Linked DNA regions of Homo sapiens. The protein of the gene in region 1 purifies or fractionates together with the protein of each later gene. This does not show direct contact. Each region holds a gene or a part of one and is shown in the gene's direction. Other genes may lie near its edges.

Region 1 (3,451 bases):
GCTGACTGTACAAAAAATTAGCCGGTTGTGGTGGCATAAGCCTGTAGTCTCAGCTACTCAGGACGCTAAGGTGGGAGGATTGCTTGAGCCCAGGAGGTTGAGGCTGCAGTGAGCCATGATCACACCACTGCACTCCAGCTTGGGCAACAAAGTGAGCCCCTGTCTCAAAAAAAAAAAAAATTATAATGAAATGACATTGAACTAACAATGTTATTTGGAGACCTTTTGCATGTCATTTTGCTTAAAGTTGCAGTTTCTAAGAACCTATTGATGACATTAAGTGAGGACTTACTGTAACAAAACGACATTGGACAAAACGATGTTATTCAAGGACCTGCTGTACTTATCCTCGTGGAGCTGTCTAGCAGGGGAGATTGACAATAAACAAATTATACAAATATAAAGTTACAAATTGTGAAGAAGTGCTATGAAGGAAAAAAGTCAGTGGTGCTATTAGAATAAAGGGTCTTGAATTAATTGGGGGATCATGATAGACCTCTCCTAGGAGGTGCTATTGAAGCTGAGACCGGAAGGATTAAGTCCAGGCAAAGAGTGGGATGAGGAGCCTCTTAGGTGGAGCGTATGCAAGGTCTCATGCTCAGAAAGAACTTGGCTTCTTTGAGGACCTTTGGAGTATTTAAAGCCAGGAAGAGAATGGCTTAAGATAAGGTTGGAGAAGTAGGCAGAGACCATAGTGTATGGTTCCTTGAAGGCCATGATAAGGAGGATGGGTTTGGCCTTAAGTGTAATGTGAAGTCCTTGAAGAATTGTAGATAGGAAAATCACATCTAATTTAAACTTTTTTTTTTTTAAATGGAGTCTTGCTCTGTCGCCCAGGCTGGAGTGCAGTGGCACAATCTAGGCTCACTGCAACATCCGCCTCTCGGGTTCAAGAGATTGTCCTCCCTCAGCCTCCCAAGTAACTGGGACTACAGGCACGTGCCACCATGCCCGGCTAATTTTTTGTATTTTTAGTAGAGACAGGGTTTCACCGTGTTAGCGAGGATGGTCTTGATCTCCTGACCTCGTGATCCACCTGCCTTGGCCTCCCAAAGTGCTGGGATTACAGGCGTGAGCCACCACGTCTGGCCTAATTTAAACTTTTAAAAGGTTACTCTGATTATTATCTGGAGAATGGGTTGGAAGAAGGTGAGAGTAGAAGCAAAGAGGCTGGTTGGGGGGCTTTGTGGTACTCTAATAACAGAGGATGGTAACTTGGACTAAGTTAGTAGCAATGGAGATTGAAAGAATATAGATTTTTAAACTGCAATAAAAATGTTTTTATAACAGATGTAATTCATAAACCATACAATATCACCCATTTAGGCTGGGTGCGGTGGTGCGTGCCTGTAATCCTAGCGCTTTGGGAGGCCAAAGTGGGCAGATGGCTTCAGCCCAGGAGTTCGAGACCAGCCTGGGCAACATGGTGAAACCCCGTCTCTCCAAAAATTAGCCAGGCATGGTGGTGTATGCCTGTAGTCCCAGCTGCTCGGGAGGCTGAGGTGGGAGGATTGCTTGAGCCTGGGAGGCAGAGGTTGCAGTGAGCAGAGATCCCACCACTGCACTCCAGCCTGGGTGACAGAGTGAGACTGCCTCAAACCCCGTCCTCCCCACCCCCGACAAGTCACCCATTTAAACTATACAATTCAGTGGCTTTTAGCATATTCAGAGTTGTACAACCACCACTGCAGTCAATTTTAGAATAGTTTCATCACTCCAAAAAGAAACCCTGTATCCATTAGTAGTCACTCCCCACTTCTCCAGAACCTCTCCCCTGCCCAGCACTAGGCAACCACTCATCTAGTTTCTACTAATCTACTGCCTATTCTAGTTATTTCATACAAGTGAAATCATATAATACATGGTGTTTTGAGTCGGGCTCCTCTCATTTAGCATATTTTCAGGGTTCATCCATGTTATGGCATGTATCAGTACTTTTTTCCATTTAAAACTGACTAATACTCCATTGGATCAATATACCACATTTTGTTTATTCATTCATCTGCTGATGGACATTTGGGTTGCTTTCACTTTTGGCTATTATGAATAATGCTGCAATGAATATTGATATATTAGAGAATATACTTTAAAGGTAGAATTGACAGGAGTTGGGTCAATTACTGGGTGTTGAAGGAGAAGGAATCATTAAGGATGTATGTATTTCTAACTTGAACGACAACTGTATTTTTCAAAGCCACAAGAGAGTGTACAGGGCGAAGAGAGAAGAAGGCAATATAGGCTAAATGAGGGTCAAGCAGCTGTATAGAAAATGTGTGCTGACTCTAACCTTATACTGTTGAGGGTTACAATTTTAAAGAGACTGGAGTTGGTATTATGAGGATGGGCTTAGCATGGTGCTCTTGAAGTACAGGCACTACTCCCCACCCCCATCCCCACAAGGCTAGCGGAATTTTTATGTTCTATATATTCCCTTCCTCTCAGCAAATCACTTATCCAAGTACTGCTTAATACTGCTTTAAAACAATCAGATGAACAGTTAATGCCAGGATTGTTTTAGTACCCACCAAACATCTTTGTTTTCATCAATGTAAGTACAGTTGTATGCTGCATAACAACATTTTGGCCAATGACAGACTGCATATATGATGGTAGTCCCATAAGATTATAATGGAGCTAAGAAATTCCTGTCACCTGGTGACACTGTGGCCATCATAACATAGCAGCAGAATTACTTAATTTTTAAATTATTTTACTATAGCCTAAGTATATAGTGTTTATATAGTCTTCAGTAGTGCATAGTAATGTCCTAGGCCTTCACATTCACTCACCACTCACTCACTGACTCACCCACAGCAACTTCTAGTCCTGCAAGCTCTATTCATAGTAAGTGCCCTATATAAGTGTACCATTTTTAATTTTTTATATTGTATTTTTAGTTTACCTTTTCTATGTTTAGATACACAAATACTTAACATTGTGCTACAATTGCCTACAGTATTCAGTACAGTAATATGCTGTACAGGTTTGTAACCTAGGAACGATAGACTATACTATGTAGCCTAGGTGTGTAGTAAGCTATACTATCTAGGTTGGTGTAAGTATGTTCTATCATGTTCGCGTCATGACAAAATTGCCTAAGGATGCATTTCTTAGAACATATCCCCATTGTTAAGTAACACATGACTATATTTAGTATTGAGGAGCAGCATAGAAATGTAGCTGTAAACTTTATTTACTCAGAGTCCCTTATGTTAGTTCATTTATCCAAATTAGATTTAGTAGGTGTCTACTTTAAGCTAGGCTCTACAGGGAGCTATGATATGCTTATGATGTAGTCTCTGTCTTCATTTGGGGAGAAATTGGCAAGAGGGGTAGGGACTTAAAGGAATGACAGATTGTCCATGGATATTAAAGAAGACTTCATGGAGAAGATGGTGTTTGACTGGGGCCTTAAAATATAGGTAGGGTTTTAATAAGGAGATAGGGAAAG
Region 2 (3,662 bases), about 23 Mb from region 1:
ATGTGTTACTATTAATAATTTTACTCATCCTCTAGTAAAGCTATAAACATACATGTTACTGGATTTCAAAATGAGAAAGCCACAAGGAACGTCTGATCTCAAATGAATATAAAATTGGACATTGCCCCCATTGTTGTTGGTATAAACTCTGATACCAAAAACAGGAGTTTACTCTTAGCTGTGTACTTTACGCCTTCTATAAGGTGCCACACACACTTATGGCAGTAGACTACTTATTAGAAATTTAAATTTCCAAATACATTGATGAGAATACAGTAGAAAGAAGATTAAGGTGTACAAAAATCTTAAGGATTTCAAAGAAAAAAATTGTTTTTAATACTAACCTTTTTAAAACATAGTACTGATTGTTTTAGATTGGTCAGTGGGAGCCCCTTCAAGCTGTTTCCTGTGTCCTTTTGACGTATCTGCATCATTCTGTGATCATTTCTTGCTTTCTGATGCAACAAGATGTTCCAAACTCATCTTTATATTTTTCTGCCTAGGTCCTAGAATCATCCACTTGTCCAAAGAGCTCTAGTTCCTTTTAGTGGAGAATGGTATTTAGAAACCATTATTTGTTTCTTTTTAATATTGTTGTTTAGATAATAAGGAAAACAAATAATGGACTTAGATTTCCTGTTTTTTTTTTCCTACATTCCTGCTGGGTTTCTTGCATAGTCTAGTATTCAAAGTATTTTCAGAAAAGTCCCTTTTCACCAGTATTAATTTATTGGCTCTTATTGCTTATAACTTGAGTCCTATAGCTGTCATATAGCTCAGGTATAAACAGCATTTGATTTTTGAGGTGTGTAAACCCTCTCTTCATATTCTCAGGATGTAAATTTGCATTTCAGCATTGTAAAACCAGTTTGGGTATAGTATTAGTTGTACATGTCTAATTACCTACCTGTGACCTTTGTGGACAGAAATCTGCATTATAATCTTTGTAAATTTTCATCATATACTGTTTGTCTGTGGGTTCACATTACTTAAATGAATACCAGCTTTTTTAAACCCCTAGGCTGGTAATCAGTTTCGTGTGTTAGGCAGGTTAACCAATTTTAGTTATCAGTTGTGATTTTTATTCCTAGCTAGACATTTGTTGTACATACTGTTCAGAGATTGTTAAAATCTAGAGTCAGGGCACTACCAAAAAACGCCTGATAGTTTTAAAGATGCAAGTTTTTTTTTGTTTTTATTTTTTATTTTTTGAGACAGACTCTCACTCTGTTACCCAGGCCAGGCTGGAGTGCAATGGCACAATCTTGGCTCACTGCAACCTCTGCCTCCTGGGTTCAAGCAATTCTCCTGCCTCAGCCTCCCGAGTAGCTGGGATTACAGGTGTGCGTCACCACACCAGGCTAATTTTTGTTTTTTTGTGTTTTTTTTTTTTTTCAGTAAAGACGGGATTTCACCATGTTGGCCAGGCTGGTCTTGAACTCCTGACCTCAAGTGATCTGCCTGCCTCGGCCTCCCAAAGTGCTAGGATTACAGGTGTGAGCCACCACGCCAGGCATAAAGATGCAAGTTTTAAAATTTAAAAAAATTAAAATGAGTTGGCCAGGTGCGGTGGCTCACACCTGTAATCCTAGCACTTTGGGAGGCCAAGGTGGGCCTATCACTTGAGGTCAGGAGTTCAAGAGCAGCCTGGCCAACATGGTGAAACCCCGTCTCTACTAAAAATACAAAAATTAGCCAGGCATGGTGGCGGGTGCCTGTAATCCCAGCTACTCGGGAGGCTGAGGCACGAGAATTGCTTGAACCCAAGAGGCGGAGGTCACAGTGAGCCAAGATCATGCCACTGCATTCCAGCTTGGACGACAGAGTAAGACTCTGTCTCAAAAAAAAAAAAAAATTAAAATGATTTATATAGACTTAAGACCTGAGTATTTACTCTGTTCAATTGGGGGAAGCTCCATCTACAGTCTAATGTGTTCAGTTTTAAAGCCTGAACTCCATACCTACTAAAATGTATTAACAATCCTTAGGCCAAGAAAACATCCACCTACTGTGAGTTTTCTTTTTTCTTTATAAAATAAAATACTTACATTGCTTCATTACGCTTCACCAAATTCTTTGAACTGATCCTTAACACATGGGAAAACTTACCTAGGGATGGAGATATTTTAGAGGAAGGTCTCACCTTCTGTGTTTGGGAGAGAAAGCAGTAAAACCCGGATTTCTCAGTACCTTTGGGCTTTATTCCCTTAGACTTTCTTCACCTTTGTCTCTAGAAATGATGATAATTGCAGTGTCCTCAGCAACTCTATCTCTGGGTAGACTGCTGGTTCCAGGGGGAAGGGATGTATTGGAAAGCCTGCATCCCCAAATGAAAAATTGGAAATGGATACATTTCCATAAATGTATTTTTTAAGAGAGCAATGATGTCAGTATATATATTAAGTCTTCGAGTCTTACAAAATACATTTATTAAGCAAACATTTGTTGAGTACCTATTAGGAGCAAGGTAAAAGAGCCATGTGCTCACAAGGATGAAAAATGTTAGTCAAGGCTTGTAATCTAGTCAATGAGATAAGATAATAATGACTCCTATGACGTTAAGGGAACTTCAGAGGCAGGATATAAGACGTTTAACTGAGAAAATTAAGGAAAGTTTTATAAAACGGGGTAGTATTTGAGCTGTACCTTGGAATAATGGGTAGAATTTAGATGACTGGGGGTTTAGACTAGGTTATCTCCAAGATATTTTTCTGCTTAAAAAGTATCTGAACACAGAAAGGGAATAAATTTTCTGGGCCCACCTGGAGACCTCAAGGGGTGTATTTGATCTCTGCTTTAGTTTCATGGGCATAGATGACATCTTCTGATTCTCAGCAGGTGACCAAGATTAAAAGTGCCAACTAAGGTAATAAATAGAAAACCTGGGTCTTTATTCTGGTAGGTTAAACTCTCATCTTTATGTCTTCATCCAGCTATACCTCAGTGCTTACTGTGTACTAGAGGCTGTTTGAAGAGTTTTACAGGGATTATTTTTACTTAATTTTCACAATAATTATATGAAATGGGTGATATATCCCCCATTTTACAGAGGAGAAAACTGAGGCACAAAAATTTAAATAAACTTGCCCAAGGACACTCAGCTAGTAGGTGAGAGCCTGTATTCAAACTCAAGCAGGTAGGCTACAGAGCCTACATTCTTTACCACTATTCTATACTGAATTTTGTAACATCTAAACAAGCTTGTAAATTTTTTTAAGGTTGTTTTGCTCTTATTTCTAATGACTTTTTCCTCACCTTTTATTAGTTTCCTTTGCTTTGAAGATAGTTTGCGGTAAGCTGAGTGTAGAATATAAATCTGTATAAGTCACCTAACAAACATGGTCTGTTTATTGTAACTACAGCAACCCCACAAACGGTGTCTGTCCCAAATAAAGTTGCAACTCCAATGTCAGTGACAAGCCAAAGATTTACGGTGCAGATTCCACCTTCTCAGTCCACACCTGTCAAACCAGGTAATGTGATTGGGAGTGGGGGACAGAATTTGTGAATAATTTGAAATTGTAGGACCGTTTGTATTCCTATAGCAAGAGGTAAATTGTTTTAATACCCAACAGGAAGGTGGCAGTAATGCTGCAAATGAGGGTTCTTCAGAGGGACCTATGAGCCCTCTAAAATTCTGTGAAATTTTACATAAAGTAGTC
Region 3 (2,457 bases), on another chromosome or scaffold:
GCTATCTACTAATTGTCATCTTTTGCTTTCAATAACTTTATAAAAGGCTCTGGGCTACAGACCACTATCAGCCTTTAAGAATATTTGCCGGCCATCTTGCTGATGTGAATTGTACCAGATTCCATCCAAATTCTAATTATGTTGCTACGGGCTCTGCAGACAGAACTGTGCGGCTCTGGGACGTCCTGAATGGTAACTGTGTAAGGATCTTCACTGGACACAAGGTATTTTACACTCTTACTATTCCAGCATCCAAGGTTGCTTTCAAAATAAAAATATTTTTTAAACAAGTGACACATAAATTTTAAAGATACCATTCTTACTACAAAACTTTAAAATTTTGTCTTATTTTCCTAGACATACTTTGATCTTTTCTATGAACTTTTTTCTAGGGACCAATTCATTCCTTGACATTTTCTCCCAATGGGAGATTCCTGGCTACAGGAGCAACAGATGGCAGAGTGCTTCTTTGGGATATTGGACATGGTTTGATGGTTGGAGAATTAAAAGGCCACACTGATACAGTCTGTTCACTTAGGTTTAGTAGAGATGGTGAAATTTTGGCATCAGGTAAATGACTATTAATGGCTTTACGATAAATGCTATGTTAAGAGGAAACAGTGTTGACGACTGCAATACTAAGTCCTTATGTTTTAGGTTTTACTTCCCTTTAGCTATGATTCCAGAGTGTCATCCTACATCAATCACTTCTCAGGTTAAAGTACTGCTTGATAATGCTCCTTAGGAAGGAATAGAGTTATTGGTCAAGTTTAGATTTTTCACCCAAAATGTACAGTAAATACATAGTGTAGTGGACAAAATGTCCGAATGTAAATATGATGGATGCAACTAATGGTTTCCTTTGACTTCCCCTTAGGTTCAATGGATAATACAGTTCGATTATGGGATGCTATCAAAGCCTTTGAAGATTTAGAGACCGATGACTTTACTACAGCCACTGGGCATATAAATTTACCTGAGAATTCACAGGAGTTATTGTTGGGAACATATATGACCAAATCAACACCAGTTGTACACCTTCATTTTACTCGAAGAAACCTGGTTCTAGCTGCAGGAGCTTATAGTCCACAATAAACCATCGGTATTAAAGACCTTTTGGAAGCTACTGTTTTTAAAAAGGGAGACTAAAAGCAAATACCTCAGTGATTAATATTTAAGCTACAGAGAATGTTTTTGTCTATATGGATCTGGAAGTATGCTGCTTGGAAAAATCTGAACAGGACAGTTCCACGTTTCTATAGCAACCACATTTGACTAATTTCCGTTAGTTGAATAAGAGGTATTATGATCATGGAGGGGACATTTATGGTGCTTTGGATTGTGTGGAAACTATGCATTTTCTGTTCAAATGCTATTTTAATTTATTACATTTAGAAAAAAAGTTGATTTCAATAATTCATCCTGCTTCAAGATTCAAATTCAGAAATATACTATCATCTTGAATTTTAGCTGAAGAATCCTATGAGCATGTATGTTTCTGCTGTAAAAACGTAGTTACTGTATGGCACTCAAAAACTATGTTAAATGATCCACTAACTTTTTTTTTCTTGGCCCATGATTAATGGAATGTATGTAACTAGGTAGGGTTCCTTTCTTAGATCTAGAGGAAGTACAGCCACCCACTGACATCTGAATTTATATACCTGTTGAGTTTTGAGTGCACCCAAACACTCGATAAACCAGGTGAAGAAATTTAGCTTCCATGTTCTACTTCAGCTAAAACAGCTACATACAACCTAGTACACTTGAAGTCAGACAGACATTTCAGTTGCTTACCTCCAGTACTGAGCCTTGCTTTGGGAAACTAAAAGATTTAGACCAAGTCACTGCCAGTTTTTGCCTTTGTTGCATTTTGTACAGTTTTTATATTTTTGATATCTTGTAAATAAAGACAACCAGCTTTTCCAGGTTCATAATTTATTGTACAAATTGAATTATCACATGATGAGTTGGCATTAGCTTCTCCAGGCATGGGAACTTAACAGATGAGGTTAAGAACCGTAGACAGTTTAAAATCCTATAAACAAAGCAAACAGTTTAGATACAAATGTGGCCAGCTTTACTCTTAAGACACTCAAGAATTACTAAGGTAACATGAACCCACTGAAACTGAATGCGAATTTATTAGATTGTCAAAGATGTAACACCAAAAAAATTAAAGTGTATCTCAGATTAATACTTTTTTTTTTTTGAGACAGAGTTCGCTCTTGTTGCCCAGGCTGGAGTGCAATGGCACAATCTCGGCTCACTGCAACCTCCGCGTCCCAGGTTCAAGTGATTCCCCTGCCTCAGCCTCCCAAGTAGCTGGGATTACAGGCATGTGCCACCACACCCGGCTAATTTTGTATTTTTTAGTAGAGACAGGGTTTCACCATGTTGGTCAGGCTGGTCTCGAACTCCTGACCTCAAGTGATCCACCCGCCTCAGCCTCCCAAA

What was found.
Region 2: the proteins of TAF7L (region 1) and TAF9B purify together in Homo sapiens (affinity purification with mass spectrometry; 2 studies listed by BioGRID and IntAct, with this or other methods). This does not show direct contact.
Region 3: the proteins of TAF7L (region 1) and TAF5 purify together in Homo sapiens (co-immunoprecipitation; 3 studies listed by BioGRID and IntAct, with this or other methods). This does not show direct contact.

What each region holds. Positions count from the first base shown.
Region 1 is NC_000023.11:101,270,948-101,274,398, reverse strand, and holds part of TAF7L (transcription initiation factor TFIID subunit 7-like), read left to right. Parts: intron 1-3,451. UniProt on the Homo sapiens protein: Probably functions as a spermatogenesis-specific component of the DNA-binding general transcription factor complex TFIID, a multimeric protein complex that plays a central role in mediating promoter responses to various activators and repressors.
Region 2 is NC_000023.11:78,133,149-78,136,810, reverse strand, and holds part of TAF9B (transcription initiation factor TFIID subunit 9B), read left to right. Parts: intron 1-3,362; coding exon 3,363-3,473; intron 3,474-3,662. UniProt on the Homo sapiens protein: Essential for cell viability. TAF9 and TAF9B are involved in transcriptional activation as well as repression of distinct but overlapping sets of genes. May have a role in gene regulation associated with apoptosis.
Region 3 is NC_000010.11:103,387,129-103,389,585, forward strand, and holds the end of TAF5 (transcription initiation factor TFIID subunit 5), read left to right. Parts: intron 1-46; coding exon 47-224; intron 225-392; coding exon 393-570; intron 571-877; coding exon 878-1,095; 3' UTR 1,096-1,937; downstream 1,938-2,457. UniProt on the Homo sapiens protein: The TFIID basal transcription factor complex plays a major role in the initiation of RNA polymerase II (Pol II)-dependent transcription.